Linked DNA regions of Homo sapiens. The protein of the gene in region 1 interacts with the protein of each later gene in a biochemical or structural test. Each region holds a gene or a part of one and is shown on either strand. Other genes may lie near its edges.

Evidence for each region. The genes of interacting proteins can lie anywhere in the genome.
Region 2: the proteins of HMG20A (region 1) and DTNB form a complex in vitro, tested with the Homo sapiens proteins (one study listed by BioGRID).

Annotation. Positions count from the first base shown.
Region 1 is NC_000015.10:77,468,184-77,473,689, reverse strand, and holds part of HMG20A (high mobility group protein 20A), read right to left. Parts: intron 2,781-5,506; coding exon 2,648-2,780; intron 1,908-2,647; coding exon 1,876-1,907; intron 1-1,875. UniProt on the Homo sapiens protein: Plays a role in neuronal differentiation as chromatin-associated protein. Acts as inhibitor of HMG20B. Overcomes the repressive effects of the neuronal silencer REST and induces the activation of neuronal-specific genes.
Region 2 is NC_000002.12:25,379,046-25,383,584, reverse strand, and holds part of DTNB (dystrobrevin beta), read left to right. Parts: intron 1-4,261; coding exon 4,262-4,266; coding exon of another isoform or gene 4,267-4,295; intron 4,296-4,539.

The DNA of each region.
Region 1 (5,506 bases):
TCTGAATAAACACCTTCACTTCTCAAATAATCAGCAGCAGGTTCTATGATACAGACTAAATCTACATCTTTTCTGACTGCAACTATCAAGTTTACTGAAGACAAAAATGCTACATATAGTTTGGCCAGCAAAATTCATAGTGATGAAATGAGTCAGATGACTGACACCTATTCAGATGACTGACTAGAAAATGTGAGATCTAATGTTTCAGGTTACTGTCCAAATTCTCTTTGGTAACTGTTAAGGATAGAGAAGCTATAAAATAGAGAAAAAAAGAAGCACAGGAATTTCATGATATTGATAGCTGGGCACACAGGCAAAGAAAGAGAGAAGTAATTATACAAATGTCTGCTAATATGAAAAGTTTACAATATTATTATGATTTAAAATACAAAGAATACATACAAAGTTTCTCCAGCAAAACAACATAACATTTCATCCTAATTAGAGCATAGAATGTCATATATAATTACATTTATATAGGATTTATCTGAAGAATAAAATGTAAATATTTACTATGCTTCTCACTTTATAATTCATAGATGGTAATAACGTCTATTTGACCTGTGAATCTGAATCTTTTCTCTATGTTTTAAGGTAACCAACATTTCCTTGATTTAGTAAAAAACCAAACACATGTAAAAGAGTACATCAGAAAATTCTTTTTGTTCAAATTCTCAGTTATTTCAGGTCAACTTTGAATAGATTCCATAAAATAATCATTTGTGGAATACCTTCTCAAGGCAAAGGTATCATGATAGGTGGTATGGGGTTGGATATAAAGATGGAAACTAGACTGTGTATGTCCACAAAGACATTACAACCAAAGAGTGTGAGCCCTTGAATTACCTCAAAACCCCTAGGTCAGATCAGCTAAGCACATAACACAAGTATAGAGAGCCATGAGGGTTAAAGGAAGTTAGAGGAAACAAGAAAAGTTTGAAGGAGAAAACAGAATTTGAAACAACACACACACCTAAATCCCATACACACACAGAAACACAGGCCTAAATCCTAACAATGGGGCTGAACCAAGTGGGAGGAAAGAAGCCAGTACACAAACATGTGCTAGTGAAGTGAGGGAATAGGAAAGGAGGTGTGAGAACTGAGATACTGGGCCGGGCGTGGTGGCTCACGCCTGTAATCCCAGCATTTTGGGAGGCCAAGGCGGGTGGATCATGAGGTCAGGAGATCGAGACCATCCTGGCTCATATGATGAAACCCTGTCTCTACTAAAAATACAGAAAATTAGCCGGGTATGATGGCACGAGCCTGTAGTCCCAGCTACTCGGGAGGCTGAGGCAGGAGAATTGCTTGAACCCGGGAGGCGGAGGTTGCAGTGGGCTGAGATTGTGCCACTGCACTCCAGCCTGGGCGACAGAGTGAGACTCTATCTCAAAAAAACAAAAAACAAAACAAAACAAAAAACAAACCTGAGATACTGTCGCTTGTGCTCTATCGACATTGTAGTTGAACAGTTCGCTTTAAGCAAATGCTGGATTCTTTAAATAACAACTTTTCTGAGAGTCAGATTTAAGTATTTGGTGATGATAAACTATGGTCATGTTATAGCTTTCAGCTAGCCCTCATTTCTATACTTCATTCCAAATTCCAGCCATCTTTGGCATTTAAAGCCAATAAAATTCTCAGATCACAGGAAAGGATTGAGGTTAGGGGCTGTAGTTCAATGACAGACACACAACGTAAGTGTCTGCCATATGCTAAGAACCCCCAAGCTAAAGTATCTCATTTAATCTGAATTACGAGATAGGAAATACTTTGCCATTCATTAAAAAAAAAAAAATCCAATAGCATTTCAAAAAGCAACATTATTATAAATACATATATATGATATGTAGACAGATGGCTAATTACCTCATGATCATGAGTGGCCTGCCGGGCTGCATCTAAAAATATAAAAGAATAAGAGAACATTACATTTAAAAAGAAAGCAATAACAAAACCCAAGTATACGACTCTGCCAAACTATAAAACCTGCTTGTATATGTAGATTCTCATAACATATGATATTTTTCCTTAAGGCTTTATTAATCGGTCAGCCAACAAAAGTAAGGGAACCCCATGCCTACAGAATTCATAATTAGGCATAAGAGAAACAGCAGACACAGTTCTTAACTTTAGGGAGAAAAGGGTGGAAGAGTGGACAGAAGACACAAACCAAAGACTACTTATACAACATCTATAATTTTAGCAGGCTAGATGCCCAAGTATAGAGAAGATGCAATGGCTAAGGAAAAATAGGCTAGTTGTGGATGGTGCTTCAAAAATGACACATGAAAGGCTTAGAAGTGTTAAAGGGAAGTTACTGATATAATTTTGTAGATAGGCTTGCTTACAGGCAGAGAAATGCCTAAACTGGGAATCAGGAAAAGAAGGGCAGGCAACTAACAGGGGTCTCGGAGGACAAGTCAAAATCATTGATAATAGACACGGAAACCCAGTTGAAATTTCTAAATGAGAGCAATGTGATTTTAATAAAATTTCAAGATAATGCTTGTAAGTGAATACTGGATAGTGGAGAAAAAACAGAAACACATCTTTTATAGTTACCACTCTTAACAGTTGGCTTTATGACACTCCATCACCCACAACAAACTACAAATACATTTGGTTCTGGTTTTGATACCTTGCCTATGAGATTTGCCTTTCTGACGGTCCTGGGTTTTCCTACTGAAGACCTTGTAGGCCTCTGTTTTCTGATACTGTTCCAGTTCCTTCATGTAACGCTCCTTATCTCTGTCTGCTTCATCAAGGTAGCGCTAGGAAAGAAATACAGAATTATTTTCAAGAAAATGAGATCCTATTTAAATAAAATTAAATTACCTATTTGAAGAAAACAGGACAATTAGAACATGGGAAGAAAAGAATATAGGGAATATGCCTTAAAAAAGAATCAGAAAAACAAGAGTTGTATGAATAGAATAAAATATAACCTCTCAATTATAAAAGTAAATAGGTCATTATGAGTTTTTAGAATATTTATTGCCTTTTCTAACCTAATGAAGACAAGTTCTATTGAGATCATTCTTATAAAAAATTCATGAAGATGATTAGAGTTATTCTTCTAACTCTATAGATAGAACTCTATATGGCCACTAGAGTCATCCTCATGAGATGTGCACACCACATAGGCACACTTAGTCTTCCCAAGGGAAGGAACAGAATATTACTTTGTTTTGCTGTCTCCAGCCCATTTTGAGGGGATGATGTCATACATCAATTGGCCCTTTAAGAGCCAGGAGGTTGGAGCAATGAAGCTGGGAGACACAAAGAACATAAAAATAATGACCTCATCCTATGGACCTAAAAATGGACTACTCTGAGAGAACCTATATCTACATGCTTTGATTGCTTTGTGCTATTAATTATTTAAACAAAGTTCATTGATCTACCAGGATTATTTTGTTTAATGCTTTGCCCTTTTCATTCATCAAAATGAAGTATAAGAAAGTATAAAAATACTGCTTCTAAATGAACAGAAAACACACTCAGAAATTATGTTAAACACTTTGTCCCGCGTAAGAGCCAGATGTAGGGGATACTCAACTGGCCAAATCTGGTACAATTTAAGCACCAAAATAATTAAGTACAGTAATAAATTATAAACTAGTAGAAAAAACTTCATACTATTATTAGTATGATTTATAACAGACACAATACCAATGATTTGTTACCATACAAATACAATAAATGGGTGTAGAGGCTGAGCGTGGTGGCTCACGCACGTAATCCCAACATTTTGGGAGACCGAGGTGGGTGGATCACTTGAGGTCAGGAGTTCAAGACCACACTGGTCAACATGCTGAAACCCCATCTCTACTAAAAATACAAAAATTAGCTGGGTGTGATGGTGCACGCCTGTAGTCCCAGCTACTTGGGAAGCTGAGGCTAGAGAATCGCTTGAACCTGGGAGGTGGAGGTTGCAATGAGCCGAGAGTGTGCCACCGCACTCCAGTTTGGGCGACAGAGCAAGATTCCATCTCAAAAAACAAACAAACAAACAAACAAACAAATAAATAAATGGGGGTAGGGGGTCGGGCATGGTGGCTCATATCTGTAATCACAGGATGTTGGGAGGCCAAGGCAAGAGGAGGACTGCTTGAGCCCAGATGTTTGAGTCCAGCCTAGGCAACAAAGTGAGATCCCATCTCTACAAAACATAAAATAATTAGCCAGTTTTGGTGGTGTGTGCTACTTAGGAGGCTAAGGTGGGAGGGGTGCTTGAGACCAGGAGGTCAAGGTTGCAGTAAGCCAAGATCTTGCTTAGATTAGAATGCTGAAGGCTACCTGGTAAATGTAAAGGGAGTGCTGGAGTTGGAAAAATCATCACGTTGTAACCATAATGATAAAGATTAAATCAGGCAAAAATAATCAATGGATGCTAAATCTAGGGGAAAATGTTGATGTAAAACAGGCTGTTTGTATGTTCTTAAATCGTCTCCCCATAGATTACTTATTAATGACAAAGGAGAATTTAAATAATGTACCAGGTAAGCAAAATTAACATTACTAGTGAGAAACAAAAGGACATTGTGTGCCTGCATATGTGACATATTGAGAACACACCACCACCTATGCAAGTAATCCCACCAAGAATGCGCAACCTCAATCTAATCACAAGGAAACATCTGAAAAATACACAATGAGCAATGTTCTGTTAAAGGTAAAAGCAGCGGGGGAAGCAGAAGGGAACTGTATTTTAAAAAAATATCAATGTTATAAAAGAAAAAGAAAGATTATGGAAATATCCCAGTTTAAGCTAAAGAAACTTGACTACTAAACACAAAACCTGACCCTAGACTGGAACCTGTTTTGGAAGGGAAAAATGTTATAAAGAAATGACATTCAGTCAACATATAGATGACAGATTAAAGCACTGTTAATGAAAAATTATGAAATTGATGACTACACTATGGTTATATAAGAAAATATTCTTTGACATACACACTGAAATATCCTGGGGGTAAAGGGCTACAATGTATATAATTTATCCTCACATGATTAAAACAAAATTTTGTGTGTGTCTGGGTGTACACATGCAAGTGTGTGTGTGTGTGTGTGTGTGTGTGTGACAGAGAGAGAGAGAGAGAGAGAGAAAGACTGAGCATGCAAAAGTATAAGAAAGACTGAGCATATAAGTGCATATGCAAATGGAGAAATGGAATAAAATGTGTTAACAATAGGTGAATCTGGGTAAAGAGTGTTGGGATGTTCTTTGTATTATTTTTATGTTTGTAACTTTTTGTGTATTTGAAATTATTTCCAAAAAAAGTTAAAAAAACAAAAACAAACACAAAACCTTTGTCCTACGTAATAGTGGTTATCCCAAGAAATAAGCACTGTTATTTTTACATTTTTGTTTATACATTTCTGTATTCTCTGAAAAGAGAATAATGAGCACATATTAATTTTAAAATAAAGAAAAAAAAGAAAAGAATAGCATAGTATGTACAGCCCACTATCCTTTTATACAGTAGCGCCAAAA
Region 2 (4,539 bases), on another chromosome or scaffold:
AAGTAGAACACAAAAGATGACCCTTTGACTGGAGAAGTTTATGATCTAGTTAATAAAGCAAGACCAGGCCAGGTGCGGTGGCTCACGCCTGTAATCCCAGCACTTTGGGAGGCTGAGGCGGGTGGATCACAAGGTCAGGAGTTCAAGACCAGCAGGCTGGCCAACATAGTGAAACCTCATCTCTACTAAAAATACAAAAAATTAGCCAGGTGTGGTGGCAGGCGCCTGTAGTCCCAGCTACTTGGGGAGAATGAGGCAGGAGAATCACTTGAACCTGGGAGGCAGAGATTGCAGTGAGCCGAGATCACACCACTGCACTCCGTCCTGGGCAACAAGAGTGAAACTCCATCTCCAAAAAAAAAAAAAAAAAAGACCAAAAATGCAAAATAAATAGATCAAATGAAGTGGCAGAAAAAGCTAATCATAAAACTTTCAGCATATAAGTATAATAAGGGTTTCTGAAAAGGAAGAGATTGTTGTGGACTAGAATAGCCAAATGGTTTTGTGGCTTCATGGAAGAATAAAACCAAGAAGGGAAGGTGTCAGCAAAGGACAGTAGTGCCTTCCTAGTTTCATTATATATCGAACCTGCTTAACACATGACATCTGGGAAGAGCTGCAGGGAATGATTTTCACGTATGATGATCTCATCTAATCCTTAACACTGTGAGACAGATTCGAATATCCCCATTTTACCCATGAGGAAATAGGCTCAGAGAGATGTTGTTCATGTAGCTGTTAAACGGCAGAGATTTAGGCCAGACGTGGTGGCTCACACCTGTAATCCCAGCACTTTGGAAGGCCGAGGCGGGCGGATCACTTGAGGCCAGGAATTCGAGAGCAGCCTGGCCAACATGGTGAAACCCTGTCTCTACTAAAAATACAAAAATAAGCCAGGTGTGGTGGTGCATGCCTGTAATCGCAGCTACTCGGGAGGCTGAAGCAGGAGAATCCCTTGAACTCAGGAGGCAGAGGTTGCAGTGAGCCAAGATCACGCAACTGCACTCCAGCCTGGGCAACAAAGAGAGACTCTGTCTCAAAAAAAAAAAAAAAAAAAAAAAAAAAGGCAGAGAACTGGGTCTTTCTGACTCCAAACTTCGTGCTCTTAATCTTCATCCTTCTATGTTATACTGAACAGAAAACAAAATTTTCTTTGGACATTTGAGGGTGAGCTGTTCTTTCTGTTGTGCATTAATGTGTTAGTTGCTGGATTCCTCCTAAACATCAGCTCCTCAAGGCAGAGATTTTAGTCTGTTTTGTTCATGTTGTGTTCCAGTGCCTGGTGCTTAGTAGGAGGTCAATAAATGAACAAATCAAAGGAAATAAATGGGGTGATGAGATAGAGAGTACCTTATCGGGGAGAGAAATGCAATGGCTGGTCACCCCAAGGAGGTGAAGGTAGGGAGAGCAGGAAGCATGAGGAGGAGCCAGCAGCAGCCCTCCCAGGGAGGAATTCTGAACAAGGCTCGGGGGAGTGAAAGAACCTGCCAGCTGATAAATGGCACAGCCTGAGTTCAACTCCAATGCCCATGGTTTAGTCTGAGCTGAACTGGTAGACTAAGGGAAGTGGAGTGGTCTTACTTAAGGAAGGGTAGAAGCCAAGTGGGAGATACAGGTAAGGAAGCTGTGACAAGAAAGGGAAACCTACAGGACAGTGGGTCTGGAGCATTCTTGGCCCATAGGGGCTGGAGTGGCTAAGACAGGGTCGTCTTTGGAGTCTCACGGGGCAAGGAATTTGTCAGCAAGGACCCTGAAATTGCTGAGGAAGAAACTGGGAGAAGAGGAAGAAGATTCTGCAGATTCTGAAATCGTCTAGTGAGTCTGAGCTAGGCCTGGGAGGAAGTGGACAGCAGCGCCAACGAGTTGATGAGAATGACATATGTGGCACGGACACCAAAAGGTCAGACTAGGCTGGGCATGGTGGCTTACACCTGTAATCCCAGCACTTTAGGAGGCTGAGGCAGGGGGATCACTTGATGCCAGGAGTTTGAGACCAGCATAGGCAACATAGCAAGACCCCATCTCTACAAAAAATAAATTAGCCGGATGTGGTAGTGCACACCTGTAGTCCCAGCTGCTTTGGAGGCAGAGGCAGGAGGACTGCTTGAGCCCAGGAGTTTAAGGCTGCAGTGAGCTATAGTCACGCCACTGCATTCCAGCCTGGATAACAGAGCAAAGCCCTATCTAAAAAATAAAAATAAAAGGTCACATTAGAGAGCAGTAGTGTTTCAGACATCCAGGAATGCTTCATAGAAATGTAGAAACAATTGACTTACCCACACAGACAAGAAAGAAGGCAGGAGGGCAAAAGGTGAAGAGATACACAGATAAATTTACACTGGTGTAAACACATGCTGCAAACACGCGCACACACACGCACACGCACATGCACATGCACATGCCAACCAAATCCTAGCATTCATGTGGAATGTTCCTGGCTGAAGACATAACAGCTGCATCTCTGGCCTCCCTTCACCTGCCCCTCCCTTCCCCAGTAGCTTTTTCCCATGGCCTCTCCTCAGTCCTTTTCACTCCACCAAAGCAAACCTAGGACTGCCCCAGCCACTGAGGCCTTGCCCTGGCCACGAACTCTAGCCCTTATCCTGGTTCGAGTCTGAGTGTGGGCCATGCCTCACATGGGAATCAGACTGGGTTTCCCTTGCCCAGCCCTCCAGGCCCCAGGGTGCTGTCTCTGCACCTGCACTCCCCTGTCCACATCAAACTGGGTTTCCCTTGCCCGGGCCTCCAGGTCCCAAGGTGCTGTCTTTGCACCTGCACTCCACTGTCCACATCAGACTGGGTTTCCCTCGCCCGGGCCTCCAGGCCCCAGGGCACTGTCTCTGCACGTGCACTGCCCTGTTCGCATCAGACTGGGTTTCCCTTTCCCGGCACTCCAGGCCCCAGGGCACTGTCTTTACACCTGCACTGCCCTGTCTGCATCTCTTCTGTCTTTCTGTGCCTCTTGCCCTTAGAGCTCCTTGTCTGTCTTTCAGTGCATATACCAGAATGTCTGTATGTCTATGTGAAATCTTTTTGTGGGAATGCCTGAATTTTTACGTATGTGACTTTCTGGTGTCATCCCTAAGGCCAAGAGTGTTAAGAGTTGGGGTGAGAGATGGTAGAGTTTTTTATGTTTGGCTCTCCACATTATATAGGTTCTAGGATATGTCCCTGAAACTACAACGTAGCTCATACATGGGCATTTTTATAAGACTAAGTGTTTTTATGGGTGGACCTCCTGATTCTCTGCCATGAGCTAGGCCTGAGATTTTACAGACCTAGGACTAACTGCAGTCACCTGGACACCAGAGATCTGTAACTGTCAACCGTAAAGAGAGAGAGTATATTTGCTTCTTTGGGGTTGAAACCATACTGACGTAATATAAACAGAATTTGGTCAGCACCATCAGGCAAACATAGTCTGCTCGATAAGGAAACTGTGAGAGTCAAATGGAACTTTTGAAGAATCTAGACCAAGCTGAACTTCCCTGCCATATTCACCCCTGCCTCACGCCTCTCCCTGTTCACCCCTGGCTGGCTGGCTGCATCCTGGGGAATGCTTCTGCTCCATCGGGGTACCCTTCCTCCTCTGCATCTCCTCAAGAGAAGTGTAACCAAGACACATAGAAGAAGCACAGACTAACACACCTTCCCCCATAGTACATCATCTCCACCCTCCACAGCCTCATGTTATGCTCCTGTGTCCTTCACAGTCTCCCCTCCCATACCCTGCCATCCCGGTGTGGGGGCTGTAAATCCAGTTTGCATCCATAAAGAGCCCTGGTGCAAGGCTGGACAGCAATGGCCCTCAGAGAACAGAACAGGCTCAGGAGGGGCCAGGCAGTGCTCGAGCCTCGGGTGAGCAAGCGCAGGGCTTTTCAAAGCAGACCATCTGCAGGAGGGGGACCGCCCTCACTCAAGGCGCAGTCATGTTCCCTTGGGGAACTTTCAGAGCTGAGTGGGCTTTGCCCCCCTCATGTAACTGCTCCCTGGATTTAAGGAGTTTTGATTCCATTTTTTAATGACTTTCCTTCTCCTGAGAAGCATCTGTCTCCATGGCTGCCTCGGGTTGGCTACAGTAGTAGAAAGTATGACTCTACCCTGCTGTCATACCTGGGTGGGAAAAGTCAACAAACGAGTAACGGGAGAAGCAAGGAAGCCCCTGGGGTGGGTTGGTCAGGGAAGCCCCTTTGAGATAGTCTGGGGCATGAGAAGACCTGGCCGTGACCTCAGTGTGTTGTTTCTGCCCATGCTGCCACAGGTTAGCAGAGGAGCCGGACACAGAGGAAGCTCAGGTGAGTACAAAGAGTCCTCTGCCTCCCCACGGCCCCTCCCTCCTTCCTCAGCATCTTCCCTTCCCCTCCCTTCCTGCAGTCACAGGTCCCTAGCCAGGGCAGTCCTAACAGGTGAAGATGCAAGAGCCCAACTGTCCCTTCCCTTTGCCCACCCCAGCCATGTGCCCTCCTTGCCCTGTTTCTAGGCTGTGTCCTGTCTTGCACAGCACTGTCTGCAGGCCTGGTCCTTGGGCATGGCCTGGTG